3 separate regions of the Homo sapiens genome follow, and all the other regions are linked to region 3. Evidence: fine-mapped expression QTL. A gene starts in region 3. Each other region holds a variant in brackets. All regions are shown on one strand. Distances are between the middles of the regions. Region 1 holds the start of NANS (N-acetylneuraminate synthase). Region 2 overlaps TRIM14 (tripartite motif containing 14). Region 3 holds the start of TRIM14 (tripartite motif containing 14).

What was found.
Region 1: its variant is fine-mapped to the expression of TRIM14 in whole blood (TOPMed, PIP above 0.99).
Region 2: its variant is fine-mapped to the expression of TRIM14 in whole blood (TOPMed, PIP above 0.99).

The regions. Positions count from the first base shown.
Region 1 is chr9:98,054,998-98,060,205 of GRCh38, reverse strand. It overlaps NANS (N-acetylneuraminate synthase), which reads right to left and starts at 3,474. Exons shown (of 6, transcript NM_018946.4): 1 at 3,266-3,474. The coding sequence starts at 3,397. It also overlaps a transcript of TRIM14 not described here. RefSeq lists enhancers at 2,756-2,875, 3,916-3,965 and silencers at 3,126-3,295, 3,376-3,725. The variant C/T (reference allele first, on the strand shown) is at 2,548.
Region 2 is chr9:98,090,066-98,095,289 of GRCh38, reverse strand. It overlaps TRIM14 (tripartite motif containing 14), which reads left to right. Exons shown (of 6, transcript NM_014788.4): 4 at 261-423; 5 at 3,289-3,381. Among named protein-coding and RNA genes, the nearest start is that of TRIM14, 27 kb to the left of the region's middle. RefSeq lists an enhancer at 4,079-4,638. The variant G/C (reference allele first, on the strand shown) is at 2,807.
Region 3 is chr9:98,116,374-98,121,597 of GRCh38, reverse strand. It overlaps TRIM14 (tripartite motif containing 14), which reads left to right and starts at 2,376. Exons shown (of 6, transcript NM_014788.4): 1 at 2,376-2,616. The coding sequence starts at 2,410. CORO2A (coronin 2A) reads left to right here. Exons shown (of 12, transcript NM_052820.4): 12 at 1-623. RefSeq lists a silencer at 2,443-2,542 and an enhancer at 2,853-2,902.

The sequences.
Region 1 (5,208 bases), 61 kb after region 3:
TTTGCATTGTAAATATTAAAAACATTGGATCAAAGAGTTAAGGAAGATTTTAAGTTATATAACTGAGCAAAGAATAGTCAACTCAGCACTGGACCAGAATTTAGTAAAGAAAAATTCTGGTTTAACTTTGACCCTAACTCTTAGATAAGTCACTTCCCAGCTCTGGACTCAGTTTCTCCATCGATATAAAAGCAGTTTGGGCTACCTCCAGGATGTGTAAACTGTCCTAATGAGGCCCTCTCAGGGACAGGAACATCCAGGGACAGTGCCCTATGCCTCTTTCTCTGATTTCAACAATAGCAACTCTGCTTTTAGCTGCTTTGCACTGGCGCTTTTCTCCATGACATTTTCTTTGAACAGGTTACATGTTAAAAAGCAGACAAACAAAACAAAAATGCCCCAGCCCCTAGATGACTTCTACTGAGCAGAGGCAATAATATAAAAGCCGGATTGTTTGACTATAAAAAAAAAAAAACAAAAAACACTCAAGAGGTCAGGCACAGTGGCCCATGCCTATAATCCAAACACTTTGAGAGGCCAAGGTGGGAGGATTGCTTGAACCAAGGAGTTCAAGACCAGCCTCGGCAACATAGTAAGACCCTGTCTCTACAAAAAATATAAAAATTAGCCAGGCATGGTGGCATACGCTTGTAGTCCCAGCTACTCAGGAGGCTGAGGGGGGAGGATCGCTTGATCCCCAGAGGTTGAGGTGGCAATGAGCTATGATGGTGCCACTGCACTCCAGCCTGAGCAACAGAGTGAGACCTTGACTCAAACAAAAACAATCTACTCAAGAAAAAGAGTAATTAAAACCCACTAAAGTCCCATCTCACGGCCATTTCTGTAGACACAGAGGTATTCATGCTATTAAAAACTTCTTGGCTGCCGGGCGCAGTGGCTCACACCTGTAATCCCAGCACTCTGGGAGGCCGAGGTGGGCAGATCACGAGGTCAGGAGATCGAGACCATCCTGGCTAACATGGTGAAACCCCGTCTCTACTAAAAATACAAAAAATTAGCTAGGTGTGGTGGTGGGCACCTGTAATCCCAGCTACTCGGGAGGCTGAGACAGGAGAACGGTGTGAACCCAGGAGGCGGAGCTTGCAGTAAGCCGAGATCACGCCACTGCACTCCAGCCTGGGTGACACAGCGAGACTCCGTCTTGAAAAAAAAAAATAAAAACTTCTTGGGTCCAGAAATGTCAGTGCTGAGATCACTACTCCTGCTCTTAGACAAATCATAAGATGGTAGAGTCAGGACTTGATGCTGGAAAGTTCAAAGAACATTAGAACTGAAAGTGACCTTGGGCAACAGAGCTCTCATTGTCTAGATGAAGATCCCAAGGCCCAGACTGACCTGACTAAAGTTGCACAGTGTCTCTAGCAGAGCTGGCCAGATCCCTTTCCTAAAGGCTGCAGCCACCTAGATTCCAGCTCAATGGAATTAGAGACAGGGTCTCGCTATGTGGCCCAGGCTGGTCTCGAATTCCTGAGCTCAAGCAATCTGCCTTCCTCAGCCTCCCAAAGTGATGGGATTACAGGAATCAGCCACTGCACCTGGTCAGTACAGCTTTGTTTCTATGGCTTCAGTATCTCTAGATATTTCTACAACTTCGGCATTCCAAGAGGAAAAACAGACTGCTCCTTCAAATTAAGAGTGGGAATTTCCCTCTAGAAAACAATGTTGCAGAAGAAAGGCTGGAGTCCTGTGGCTTAGGAGCAAAAACTGAAAAAACCCCTTACTGTATTTATTATACTAGCTATGTGACCTTGCCTAAGTCACTTATTTTCTCTTAGCCTTTAAAATGAAATCGGCAGCATCATGGCATTGGGTTGTTGTAAAAATTAAATGAGATGGTGCATGTACAGCATTTAGCTTAGTACCTGGTAGAGTAAGCACTCAAAAAATGTTAGCAATGTTATTTTTGTAAAGTATTTTTATGATTCAGTGATTAGGTTTCCATAAAACCAGTCCCGAAGGAACAGCAAGGGCCGAGGGTGGTGGCTCACACCTGTAATCCCAGCACTTTCGGAGGCCAAGGTGGGCAGATTGCTTGAGCTCAGGAGTTCGAGACCAGCCTGGGTAACATGGCCAAACCCCATCTCTACAAAAAAATTAGCCCAGCATGGTGGTTCACGCCTGTGGGTCCCAGCTACTCGGGAGGCTGAGGTGGGAGAATCACTTAAGCCTGGGAGGCAGAGGTTGCAGTGAGCCGGGATCATGCCACTGCACTCCAGCCTGGGTGATACAGAGACCCTGTCTCAAAAAAAAAAAAAAAAAAAACCAGGAAAAAAAAAAAAAAACAGTAAGAGAAAACCTCCAGCCTGGGTGACAGAGCAAGACCCTGTCTCTAACATAGATAAATAAATAAATAAACATTTAAAAAACCTATCACAAATGATACAAAATCAGTTGAGTAGCATTGATGAAGGGAAAGGAAAGATGGGGTGAGCTATCTCTAAACCAAAGAATCATAGTGCAGGCCAGGCCTTATGCTGGGGGCTGGGGTCGTAATGAAGAATATGGCAGTCCCAACAGAAGAGGGAG[C/T]ACGCATTTACCGACTCATGTGTGCCAAGTGCTGGGCTCAGAGCTCTATCTGAGAATCTCATTTGATCCCCATAACAACTCCATGTGGAAAGAACTGTTGTTTTCAAGCCCCGTTTTCAAATGGGGAAAAGGGTTCACGGAGGCTAAGTAAGCAGCCCATGTTCACACAGCTAGTAGTGGTGGAACTGAGATTTGAACTCAAAGGCCCGGCTTTTAACCACTTCATATTTCATATACAGGGAATGGCGGGTGAGAGAGACCACAGCAACTTCCAGGAACTGTCATTCCTGAAAGTAACTCTGTGTCGCTGAAGAATGTCAGAGAAGAATTATGACGGGCTGGAAGGGGCCCAGTCATTAAAATCTTGAAGGCTATGTTAAAGGGTTTCGACTCTACCCGCGGGCAGGAGGGAGCCACAGAAGGTGCCAGGCAGGGGGGATGGTCTGATCAAGTCTGACTTTTAGAAAGATTATTCTGGCACCAGAACGGGGAGGAAACAGGTCGGGTTAGGAGGCAGCTGCTGTAATGCAGAAAGGTCACGAGGGTGGCGGACACGGTGAGGAAGAGGGATCCGAAGGATTCCGAAAACGGAACTGGCGGGCGGGAAGAGGCCGGACCAGGGTACCCAGCCGCGGAGGCCGTGTGGCCCTGGCTCCCCGCGGCCCCGCCCCGCCCCTCCCGGCGCCCGAATCCCGGGTCCCGGGAGCTGCCGCCTCACCTTGGCCATGCGGATCATGCGCTTGGCTACGTCCAGGTCGCCCTGGTGGTTCTGGCCGATCTCGGCAATGATGAAGCACGGGTGTTGCCCGCCCACCCAGCGCCCGGGACACAGCTCCAGCTCCAGCGGCATTGCAGCGGCTCGGGGTCCAAAGCCTCACTACCAGTCTGGGTCCGGCCGCCGCCGCCGCCGCCTCTACTCTGTTCTGTGAGCAACGCTGCGAGACCCACACGCCAGCCCCGCCACGTCAGCCCGCGGTCGCCGGGCAGCCAATCCCCTAGGCCCCGCCTCTCTCCCGACAGCCAATCGGGGCGGGGGGCGGGGGCGGGGCCTCCCGCGGGAAGGGCGGCGGGGCGGGTCGAGGAAGCTCCGCGGCCCTCTCCTGTGCGAGGCTTGAGGCTTGCTGTCCCAGAGCGTGGTCTCGGACCATCGCGGTATCCGTGCGTGCACCCAGGAGCAAGCATTCCCTGCAGGAGGCGGACGGCTGCCTGCGCAGGGCATAGTCTATGTCCTGCTCTCAGGAGCATGGGGAGAGCGCGCCCTATGGTGTAATGGAAAAAACAGGGTTGCTAGAGTTAGAATCACAGAGCTGGATCGAGTCCAGCCTATGCCAGTCACCAGCTCCTGCTCATATATACGTTACTCAGTCTTCCGGAGCGTTATTTTTGTTTCTCTCTGAAGCAAAAAAATAAAATAGAACTGTGAGATGACGTATAGAAACCCCTGATCACAATACTTGGCTTGTAGTAAGTTTTCAAGAAGTGGCGGAGGTTCCTATTATATGAGAGGCAACAGGTTCGAGAAGTTGCACTGGCTTGTCCAAAGCCATCCAGAAAGCCAAAGCAGAGATGGGACTAGTACCCGGACCTCCCAGCCCCAGGCTCTTAAAATACAATCACCTGGGCGGGCGCGGTGGCTCACACCTGTAATCCCAGCACTTTGGGAGGCCAAGGCAGGCAGATCACCTGAGGTCAGGAGTTCGAGACCAGCCTGACCAATATGGAGAAACCCCGTCTCTACTAAAAATACAAAAAAATTAGCCGGGCGTGGTGGTGCGTGCCTGTAATCCCAGCTACTCGAGAGGCTGAGGCAGGAGAATCGCTTGAACCCGGGAGGTGGAGGTTGCAGTGAGCCCAGATCACACCACTGCACTCCAGCCTGGTGACACTGCAAGACTCTGTCTCAAAAATAAATAAATTAATTAATTAATTTAAAAAATAAGATAAGTTATTTCCCAAAATAAACCTCCTTCTTTCCTGGGAACTAGACTGCCTTTGTAGGACTAACAAATTAGCCACAAGATTAGACACGTAGGAGTCATGCACCTGGAGGCTACAAGATTCTGACCCTCCCCAAATTGCTCCTGGGGATAACATCACTATTGTAAAACCTAAGACCAGTGCTTGAGATATTTTGCAGACCCTGCACTTGATGGATCAGCTGGCACCACCAGATTGATAAACTGGTTCATCTGATCTTGTGTCCCCCAACCAGGAACTGACTTGGCACAAGAAGACAGCCTTGACTTTCTATGATTTTATCTCCAACACAACCAATCAGCACTCCTGGCATACTGGCCTCTCTTAACCCACCACATTATCCTTAAAAACTCTGATCTCCAAGGTGGGGCATAGTGGCTCACACCTGTAATCCTAGCACTTTGGGAGGCTGAGGCGGGTGGATCACCTGAGGTCAGGAGTTCGAGACCAGCCTTGCCAACATGGTGAAACCCTGTCTCTACTAAAAATACAAAATGAGCCAGGTATGGTGGTGCATGCCTGTAATCCCAACTACTTGGGAGGCTGAGGTAGGAGAATCGCTTAAACCTGGGAGGCGGAGGTTGCAGTGAGCTGAGATTGTGCCATTGCACTCCAGCCTGGGCAACAAGAGCGAAACTCCATTTCAAAAACAAACAAACAAAAACCCCAAAAACCTCTGATCCC
Region 2 (5,224 bases), 26 kb after region 3:
GGAAAGGAGGAAGGATGGAGAGGGAGGAATCCCCAGTGCCAGCACTGAAAAACCGCACCTCCGCATGGCTCCCACCTCAGGGATGCCGTATGGTCTCTCCAGGGCTCTGCTCCTGCAGGCATGGCCTGGGCTGACCATAGGTGCCAGGCCAACGTGGAGCCTGGGCATGCTGGTGTGGGTTTGTTCCTGGGTGCAGCACAGGAGGCTGGGATGCTGCCTGCATCTCCCAGAGCCACCCTCACCCCCGTGTGCCCACACAGGCATACACGGCCACCGAGCAGGAGATGCAGCAGCAGATGAGCCTCGGGGAGCTGTGCCATCCCGTGCCCCTCTCCTTTGAGCCCGTCAAGAGCTTCTTTAAGGGCCTCGTGGAAGCCGTGGAGAGTACATTACAGACGCCATTGGACATTCGCCTTAAGGAAAGTAAGTCGCCGAGTGACCAACTTTGTGTCCTTAACTCCCCTAGTGTCCTTTAGCCCAGAGACGAATGCAAAGATCATCTCCCTACATCCTGTCTCTCCCACACTGAGGCCCTTGGCTGGGCGGTCAGGGGCTCCTGGGCCTGGTGCCCAACCCACCCTCACCACTTCACCTCCAACCCTTCCTGAGACTGAGACCTGCCCTTCTCCAGTCACACTGCCCTGCTTCTGCCCCTCAGATTGCTCCTGGGAGCCTGCCACATCTCAGCCTTGCTCTGGGCTCCCAGCTGGAATGACCAACTCTTCCTCCTTCTCTTCCTCTGGCTGGGGCCAAGGCCTGGCACCCCTTCGAGGCAGACTGGCACAGCTGCGCCCACCTGGGAAGCCCTTTCCTGCCAGCCCAGCCCTGACTCACTCTCTCCTTTAGCCATCTCCCCTCTCCCTTCCCGCTCCAGGGCCTGCCCATGTCCTGCTAGAGGGTGCTCATGAAGTGGATACATGGACCCCCCTCCTTGCCCCTTGTAAGCACGTGAAGGGCAGAAACCAGCTTTAGGTCCAACTCTGAGGTCCCCCCAGGGCCTGGCACAAAACATGTACTCAAAAATATCTGTTCTTTGATTCATTTATGCATTCATTCATTCATTCACCTCTGCTATCATGATTCATTCAGAACATTTATCAAGCCCCTCTTATATGCCAGGCATAGCAGGGCACAAAACAAAGCTCCTTCTCCTCTTTTGGTGCTCACAGTCTTCGTAGGGGAAGACAGACCGTACACAAACATGTCAGGTGACAGGAACTGCTATACTGCTATAAAGAATAATAAAGGCCGGGCGTGGTGGCTCACGCCTGTAATCCCAGCACTTTGGGAGGCCGAGGTGGGTGGATGATGAGGTCAGGAGTTTGAGACCAGCCTGGCCAACATGGTGAAACCCCATCTCTACTACAAATACAAAAATTAGCCAGGCATGGTGGCATGCACCTGTAATCCCAGCTACTCGGGAAGCTGAGGCAGGAGAATTGCTTGAACCCGGGAGGTGGAGGTTGCAGTGAGTTGAGATCATGCCACTGTACTTCAACCTGGGTGACAGAGCAAGACTCTGTCTCAAAAATAACAATAATAATAATAATAATAAACCAGGGCAGGATGGAAGACAGGAAAGTGACAAGGAGGAGGAGCTGTTTTATATAAGCAGTTGGGATGGCCTCTGAGAAGGGGACACTCAAGGTGGCCCAAAGGAAGCATTCATTCTGCAGGTTCTGTGGGTCTGAAGGGCCAGAGAGCACAGTGGTCATAGGCACGGCCTCTGGAGCTAGGCCTCCTGGGTTCCTATCCGAGGTCTACCACTTGGAACCCTGCTGAACCCTGCCATCTTAGACACGGCTCCTCCCTTTTCCATGCCTCTGTTTCTGCATCTGTAAAGTGGAGACCATAATGCAGTCGCCTCTCCTGGGCTGCTGTGAGGATTAAATGAGCTCTTACACATATAGCGCTCAGGCATATTAAGCACCACGTATGTCTTGGCGATTATGATTGCTGCTGCTGTTACGTCTGGGGGAGGTATTCTAGACAGAGGGAAAAGCAAGGGTGGAGGTCCTGAGGCGCGATGGGAGTGAGCTGGCCATATCGAAGGAGCAGCAATGGGGACAACAGGAGTGGACGTAGGGTCACAGGGGAGAGAGGAAAGAGATCAGAATCCAAGGATTTGGACGTGGGCAACTCGCAGAAGGAAACTGTCATTTTCTGAAGTGAGAAAGAGTATTTAGGACTGGAGGGAATGAAGTGAACCTGTTAGATTTGAGAAGTTGGACTTCCCATGTGGTGGTATCGCCTCGGCAGTAGGACCTATGATTCTAGAGTTCTGGGGAGAGGGGAGAGGCTTTTGCCTTGATGAAAGAACAACTTCAGCCAAATTAAATTTAAAGGAGTTTAAATGAGCAATGAACGATTCATGAATCCGGCAGCCCTCTGAGCCACAGTGCACTCAGAGACTCCAGCACAGCCACGTGGTGGAAGAAGATTTAGGGACAGAAAAAGGAAAGCGACGTACAGAAAACAGAAGTGAGGTACAGAAGCAGCTGGATTGGTTACAGCTCGGCGTTCGCCTAATTTGAACACAATTTGAACAGTTGGCTACATCTGATTGGCCAAAACTTGGTGATTGGCACAAGTGCAGGCTACGGTCTGTTTACACCTCCACTTGTTATTGTTCATGACGTACAGAAAAATATGTAGGCCGAACTTAAAAGATGTAAGGAGGAGCTTTAGGCAAAACTTGATTTAAACAGCCTGCAGGTGGGCTTCCCACAGATCTCTACAGGCCCCTGTGATGAGTGCTGGGAGTGATGGGGGCGGAAGGCACTTCTGCGGAGGTGCTGAGTGAGCT[G/C]CGGCCCCAATAGCTGGGAAGGAGGCAACCTGGGCAAGGGGGGAAGGGTGTGGGGGGGCTGTCCAGGCAGAGGGCACAGCAAGTGCCAAGGGCCCTGGGTGCCCCTGCTGTGCCCGCTTGTTGGGATAGACTCCCCTCCTTCTTTCTTTCTGAGCACTCAGACCTTCCTGAGGACTCAGCTCTACTTTCTTGTTTTCCATCTTTACCCTGGAATCTGCACATCTTCCCTGAGTCGCCGCCCATCCTTGAGTGTTGGATCCAGTAGTTGTTCGCGCCTCAGCTCCTCCTCCTATTTAGGACTCTCCCACACCAGCCTTGTCATCCTGGGGTTTTCCTGTCCCTGTGAATTCACATAAATCCCTTAAATCTGCCTGGCTCTTGGGCGAGATTATGCGAATCTCCAGTTGTGTGGTATTTTTAGCACGTCTTATTTGTCTGCTTGCATAAGCTCCGGGCGCTCATTTCTCAACAATTCCTTACAGGCATAAACTGCCAGCTCTCAGACCCTTCCAGCACCAAGCCAGGTACCTTGTTGAAAACCAGCCCCTCACCAGAGCGATCGCTATTGCTGAAATGTAAGACCCCCGGGAGTGGGGATAGGGTGGAGACGGTGGAGATGGTGGGATGTTGGGTGGAGGAGGATCATGGAAATGGAGGTCCCTCTTTTTTTCTCATTAGAATTTATTTATTTATTTATTTTAAGAACTTGTTTTTTAAAAAATGTTTATTATTAAAGGCAATAAAACAATACATGTTCATTGTAGAAAAATTAGAAAATGAAAGAAAAAAGTTACTCATAATCCCTCTTCTGTGAATAACTGCTATTATTATTTGTCCTTTTAGCTTTTTTAGCACATCTAATATGCATATAATGATATATTTAATATATCTTTTTATGTTACAAACGTGGTGTCATACTATACATACTGTTTTGTCATCTGTTTTCATTTACTGATATATTATGAACATATATATATTTGGGATTTATACAGTGAGCCACTGTGCCCAGCTAATATTATCACTATGTGTGTGTGTGTGTGTGACCGAGTCTTGCTCTGGAGTGCAGTGGTGCAGTCATGGCTCACTGCAGCCTCGACCTCTTGGGCACAAATGATTTTCCCACCTCAGCCTCCCTCATAGCTGGGACTATCAGTGTGTGCCACCATGCCCAGCTAATTTTTTATTTTTATCATTGTTTTTAGAGGTTGCATGGCATTGCATTGAATGGATGTGTCATATTTAGCCAATCTCATAATGTTGGATGTTTACATTTTCATTTCTAAAACAATGCTGTAATAAACATCCATTCTTGTACACATTTGTTGAATTGAATTAATGAATGAGAGAATGAACACACCATACCTCATTTTCAGATTATTTTTTAGGAGTAATTTCTCAAGTGGAATTACTGGGTGTCAACCTAAAAAAGACTCAATCTAAAGAAGGCTCAGTATCCAGTTAGCAGAGTTTATTCAAGTGCAAAGTAACCATCAGGAGACAGAGGGAAACCAAAGAATGGTGATCACTGCCCCTGGTGTTGGGAGGGGGACAGTGAATATCAAAACAGAGGCACTGAATAAATTTACATTTTCCATACAAAGGCTAACATACTGATTTAAAGGCCGAGCACGGTGGCTCACACCTGTAATCCCAGCACTTTGGGAACCCAAGGCAGGTGGATCACTTGAGGTCAGCAGTTCGAGACCAGCCTGCACAACATGGTGAAACCCTGTCTCCACTAAAAATACAAAAATTAGCTGGGCATGGTGGCATGCACCAGTAGTCCTAGCTGCTCAGGAGACTGAGGCAGGAGAATCGCTTGAACCCGGGAGGCGAAGGTTGCAGTGAGCCGAGGTCGCACTACTGCACTCCAGCCTGGCAACAGAGCAAGACTCCGTCTTAAAAAAAAAAAAAAAAAAAAAAGTGCACAAATCAAAAATGTGCAGATCAATCAGCTCAATGATTTTTTAAAAAGGAAACATATTTTGTAACCACCTTCAGATCAAGAAATGGAAATTTCCACTCCCCAGAAGTCTTCCTCATGTGCCTTCTTGTTTACTATCCCCAAAGGGGATCCACTCTCCAGACTTCTAGGACTATAGGTTAGTTTTACCTGTTTTTGAACTTTCAGTAGATCATTCACACTATACCCTTCTGTGTTTTGCTTCTTTCACTCAATATGAGATTTATCCATTTTTGTATATTGACATACTGAGTGGCTGTTATAAATTCACTTAGTACTTCTAAGCTATCTACAGATTATTTGGGTTTTTGTGTAAATAAGCATGTCACCTATGAATAATAATCTTTCATTTCCCCGATCTTTATTCTTTCCTTTCACTTCTTTTTCGTGCCTTGAGTTACTGTCTACTACATTTAGAACATTGTTGAATAGAAGTGGTTATAATGAGCAGCATT
Region 3 (5,224 bases):
CTCCACCCCAAGGGACCCAGACTGCACACTTAACAAACAGGACACAGGTGTCTTTGAACAAACTTTTTTGTATTATTATTTTTACATCTAGAATAAATTATTTAAATTATTTCACAGCAAGGGAGAGGGATAGGTAATTTTTATCAGATATTTTTTTAAACCATCTGTTTTTTAAATTACATTTTTGTTTATGTTCTTGAGCTGATGTAGTGGAACTTGCCTAGCACATTCAGGTCCCAGCCAGTTGGCAGAGCATGCTCTCATCTCCTTATTCCATACCCTGGGCGTCCCCTTTCTGTTGACTCAGGAACTTTCTGAGAATGAGGACAGCACTAGGAGATGAGCTTTGGCAGGTATCCACCTTAACGCTACAATAATTGTGCTTCCTGAAACAAAACTTGAGATTGTATCATAGAAGGAAACAGGAAGTCAGAAATCAAATCTATGCTTTTAATTGAAACCGTGCCTGAAACAGTTTGAATGATTGTTTTAATGTTGTTTCTGAAATTCCTTGTACCTTTGTGAAAAATAATGATAATAAATAAAAGTGAAAATAAATAGATGTGGAATATGCAATGGAAATAATGTAACAAAATAATAAACATCTGGCCATTTTACTACAAGGAGCTTTCCTTTTCTTGATTTGTTCCACAAATACCAATTAACTATCTACTCTTGGAGTCAGACACCAAGCTGGAAAACAGGCAGAACAGACAGTCTTTGCCCTCTCCAGTTTTCAGTCATGGCTGCGGGAATGGGGAGGGCCAGGATAGGGAAAGCATAGGCTGTTCTGGAAGGAGAAGGAGGGAAGGCTTCCTGGAGGAAAAGATAGTAAGGTAGAAACCTGCAGAGTAAGTTGGAATACTCAGGGCAAAGGGCATTTGGGAAGAAGAATGTTCCAAGCAGGGTAAACTGCACGTCCCCCAGTCTTGAAAAAGCACAGGGTGGAGCATAGGCAGGGCGGAGACCAAGGATCTTAAGAAAGAGCTGAGGGCTTTATAAGTGGAAGTCTAGACTTGAGCCTGGGGGGGCAACTGGAATTTGGGGTGGTGGTGTGTGTGTGAAAGTTGTCAGTACCAAAACAGAGTCACTTACATCAAAACCAAACTAAATGGTGCTCCTGTAGTCCCAGCTACTCCAGAGATGAGGTGGGAAGATCACTTGAGCCCAGGAGTTAGAGGCTGCAGTGAGCTATGATCGCACTATTGCACTCCAGCCTGGGCAACAGAGCGAGATCCTGTCTCAAACAAACTAAATGGTGCTGGGAGGCCATGAAGTGGGGGGCCCTCATCAACGATTTGCCTGGTAACAGGAACTATTATTGCAAAAGATTCCACCAAACTGCAACCTTGCACAAAGAACCACAACCTTGCACAAAAGCCATGATATGAGGACATCTGCCCAGCAACTGCCTGTTCAACTTTTGGACTGAAGCCACCTGTATTAATTCTTGTAACCAAGTATTATTATTTTAAAACGATCTGGCCGGGCGCGGTGGATCACGCCTGTAATCCCAGCACTTTGGGAGGCCGAGGCGGGCAGATCACGGGGTCAGGAGATCGAGACCATCCTGGCTAAAACAGTGAAACCCCTTTTCTACTAAAAATACAAAAAATTAGCCGGGCGTGGTGGCGGGCGCCTGTAGTTCCAGCTACTCGGGAGGCTGAAGCAGGAGAATGGCGTGAACCCGGGAGGCGGAGCTTGCAGTGAGCAGAGATGGCGCCACTGCACTCCAGCCTGGGCGACAGACCGAGACTCCGTCTCCAAAAAAAAAAAAAAAAAAAAAAAACAAAAACAAACAAACAAACAAAAAAAACAGTATATGCAATCCTCCTCGTTTTGCCTTTAAAAGCCTCTGCTTTCCTTTGCCTCCCTGAGTACTCCGCGTCCCCACCCCTTGGGTGCCATGGCACATTTATTCCCGAATTGCAATCCTTCTGCTCAGTCCGAAATAAACTCAATTGGAGAATCTCTGTGTCCTTATTTGAGGTTGATGAAGGTATCTTACAGTTGTGGGAATGATTATCTTTCCGGGGAAAAGGGCAAGAGAGGATCAAGGGAAAGTGAGAGGAGCACCCCCGGAAGGTCACAGCCAACTTTGGTCCCATCATCAGGGCTGCAGTTTTCTGGGCGTTACTGGAACAGCGTCATTAAGCAGGAAGCCCACCCTCTCCTAGCTGGCTCATTAGGAGCTTCCCATTTCTGGTGGGACCACCTCCCGGCCTGGGCGGGCAGAGGGAGCACCCTGCTGGTCGGAGGATGCTCCGAGGCCCGACGCTGCTCCCGGCGGGCTGTCATCCTCCTAGGGGTCGGCCGGCCGGCCTGGAGCCGCCCCGCCCACGGCCGAGGTTTCGGTTTCCCTTGGGAGCCCCGCCCTGTGTCCCGGGGAGCCGGAGGAGGTGGAGATGAATGGCGGGCGCGGCGACCGGGAGCCGGACCCCTGGGAGGTCGGAGCTTGTCGAGGGATGCGGCTGGCGCTGCCCGGAGCATGGCGACCGCGTGGCTGAGCTCTTCTGTCGCCGCTGCCGCCGCTGCGTGTGCGCGCTTTGCCCGGTGCTGGGCGCGCACCGTGGCCACCCTGTGGGCCTGGCGCTGGAGGCAGCGGTGCACGTGCAGGTGGGGACGATGGGGACGGGGTTCGCCGCGCGGGAGTTGGGGGAGCCAGCCCAGGCATAACGGCCGAGGAGGGGGCGTGCCTGGCCGTGGCCAGTGGCGGGTTACAACCTGGAAACCAAAGGTGCCCCAGAGGGCGTCTAAGCGGTCGACCGAAAGTTCAGAGCGGGAGCCTGAGACCCAAGGAAGGGCAAAGGCGAGCCAAAGCCATCAGTTGAGCTTCAGAAAAGGTGGGTTTAGGAGTGAGAGGTTGGGAGCCCAGGCTGGTACCCAGATGTCCTTGACCGTGTCCACCATGGCCGATCCGCCACACTGCCATTGGGCTGGAAGACAGTCTGCCTTTTAGTTAACAGAGGTACAAACTCTCCCTCTTAATAAACAGCCCTGTGTAGCTCAGAAAGCCACACAGACATCTCAGGTTTACTTAATCTGCAGTCCACAGAAAGGGCCTGTGAACTTTGAGCTGAGGACGGCCTGACTGCCCTGGGAGCAGCCTCAGCTGTCACTACCTACCTCCTCTCCCCTCCCCGGCCACACAGACACTCCCATTCCTGCTCATAGCAGCCCTGGGTGAGCCATTATTATTACAGCCATTTTATAGGCCACAAGAGGAAGGCTCTGGAGGCAGGGGCAGGCCTTGAACCCAGGACTCCATTAGCCAGATGCCCCCAACAGGGCCATTGTCACCGTGGAACCCTTACCCATGCATAATCCTAACAGTGCCCCAGGGGCTCTGGGCTCCTGCTCCAGCTTCCCAGCTGACTTTTTCTGTGGCTTCTCTCAAATCCTTCTCTCTCTCTGGGTTTCATGAAGCCTGGGTGAGGTAGGCCCTCATGTCTGACAGCTGTTGATCCTACCACTTGTCTCCAAGAAGTCTTCTGTGATGAATTCAGCCCCATCGTGAGCCTTTCTCCGGTACTGCATGACTCCAGACCACCACACTGTGACAACCTTGGAACTCCAAGGTGAAAAGGGGATCATGGGGGACAATCCAGTGGAGTCGTGGGCTCAAGACCTGTCCCTGCCACCAGACCCTTCCTTTTTTTAACGTATGAAATGGCTGTAATTATAATAATGGCTCCTTGAAAAACTGTTATTCAGAATTAACAAGGCTGCTTTCCACAGATCTGGCTCAAGAGTCTCACCCATCCATTTGTCCATCCCCCTACCCACTACCTACTGTCAACTTGAAGTAATAAGATTCAGAAAATATGATTAAGTACAGAGTTTATCCAAGCCTAAAGCTTGAGGATGGCCAACTGGGACCATAGATTCAAATTTCTGTGACTATCCACTCTGATTAGCAGCAGTTACATATAAGTTTTTAAGGAAAAAAGAAGAAGCAGTTCCTAAATTGTTTACCAAGAATTTACATTAAAATGACATAAGCAGTCGGGCACAGTGGCTCATGCCTGTAATCCCAGCACTTTGGGAGGCTGAGGCAGGAGGATCACATGAGGCCAAGGGTTTGAGGCCTGGCCAACATGGGGAAACCCCGTCTCTATTAAAAAATATGAAAATCAGCCAGGTGTGGTGGTACACATCTGTAATCCCAGCTACTCAGGAGGCTGAGGCATGAGAATCGCTTGAACCTGGGAGATGGAGGTTGCAATGAGCCGAGATCACGCCACCGCACTCCAGCCTGGATGACAGAGTGAGACTTTGTCTTAAATAAATAAATAAATAAATAAATAAATAAATAAATAAAACAGAGAATCTCTATGGCAGAACAACACCAAACCTATTCCACTGGGGAGTCAACTAAAAACATCACGAAGAAAATCCCAAGCCTTCTTTAAAAGCCAGGAATTGGCTTCTAAAACTTTTTCTACAACCTTCCTTGTTGTAGCCAGGAAATAATTCAGGATTTAGTCCAAATTGCAGGAAAATAAAAACTAAAAAACAATGGCCAGGGCTGGAATCTAATAACAGGAATAACAGGTGTGCATAACAGGTGTGCTAAGATTTTCTTCTGAAACATAATTTTTCTCTCTCTAGTTCCCTGTTTTTACCAAAAATGAGTCTTGATAGGACAAATTTACTTGCAAAGTAAGTTTTAATATTACACTTGGCCTGATAATTTGCATTATTGGAACTTTCATAAGGAATTTTGGATTTGACTTTTTTTTTTTTTTTTTTGAGACACAGGGTCTCACTCTGTCACCCAGACTAGAGTGCAATGGCATGATCGTGGCTCACTGCAACCTCCACCTCCCAGGGTCAAGCAATCCTCCTACCTTGGCCTCCCAAGTAGCTGGGACTATAGGTATGCACCACCACACCTGGCTAATTTTTTTTTTGTATTTTTTTTGTAGAGACGGGGTTTCACCATGTTGTCCAGGCTGGTCTAGAATTCCTGGGCTCAAGTGATCCTCTTGCCTCAGCCTTCCAAAGTGCTGGGATTATAGGCGTGAAACACCACGCCTGGCCTGGATTTGACTTTTAAAAGCCTTACAGCTAAAAAGCCAAACCAAGGATTCACCATCAGACTATGCCTGTGATACCCATACACATTGGGTGAATTATTCTCTTCTCAAGGTCCCAAAATATCTTGAGGTTCCTAGACCTGTCGGAAAGTGACATTCTTTTCTTACCACAAGGTCGGGAACCT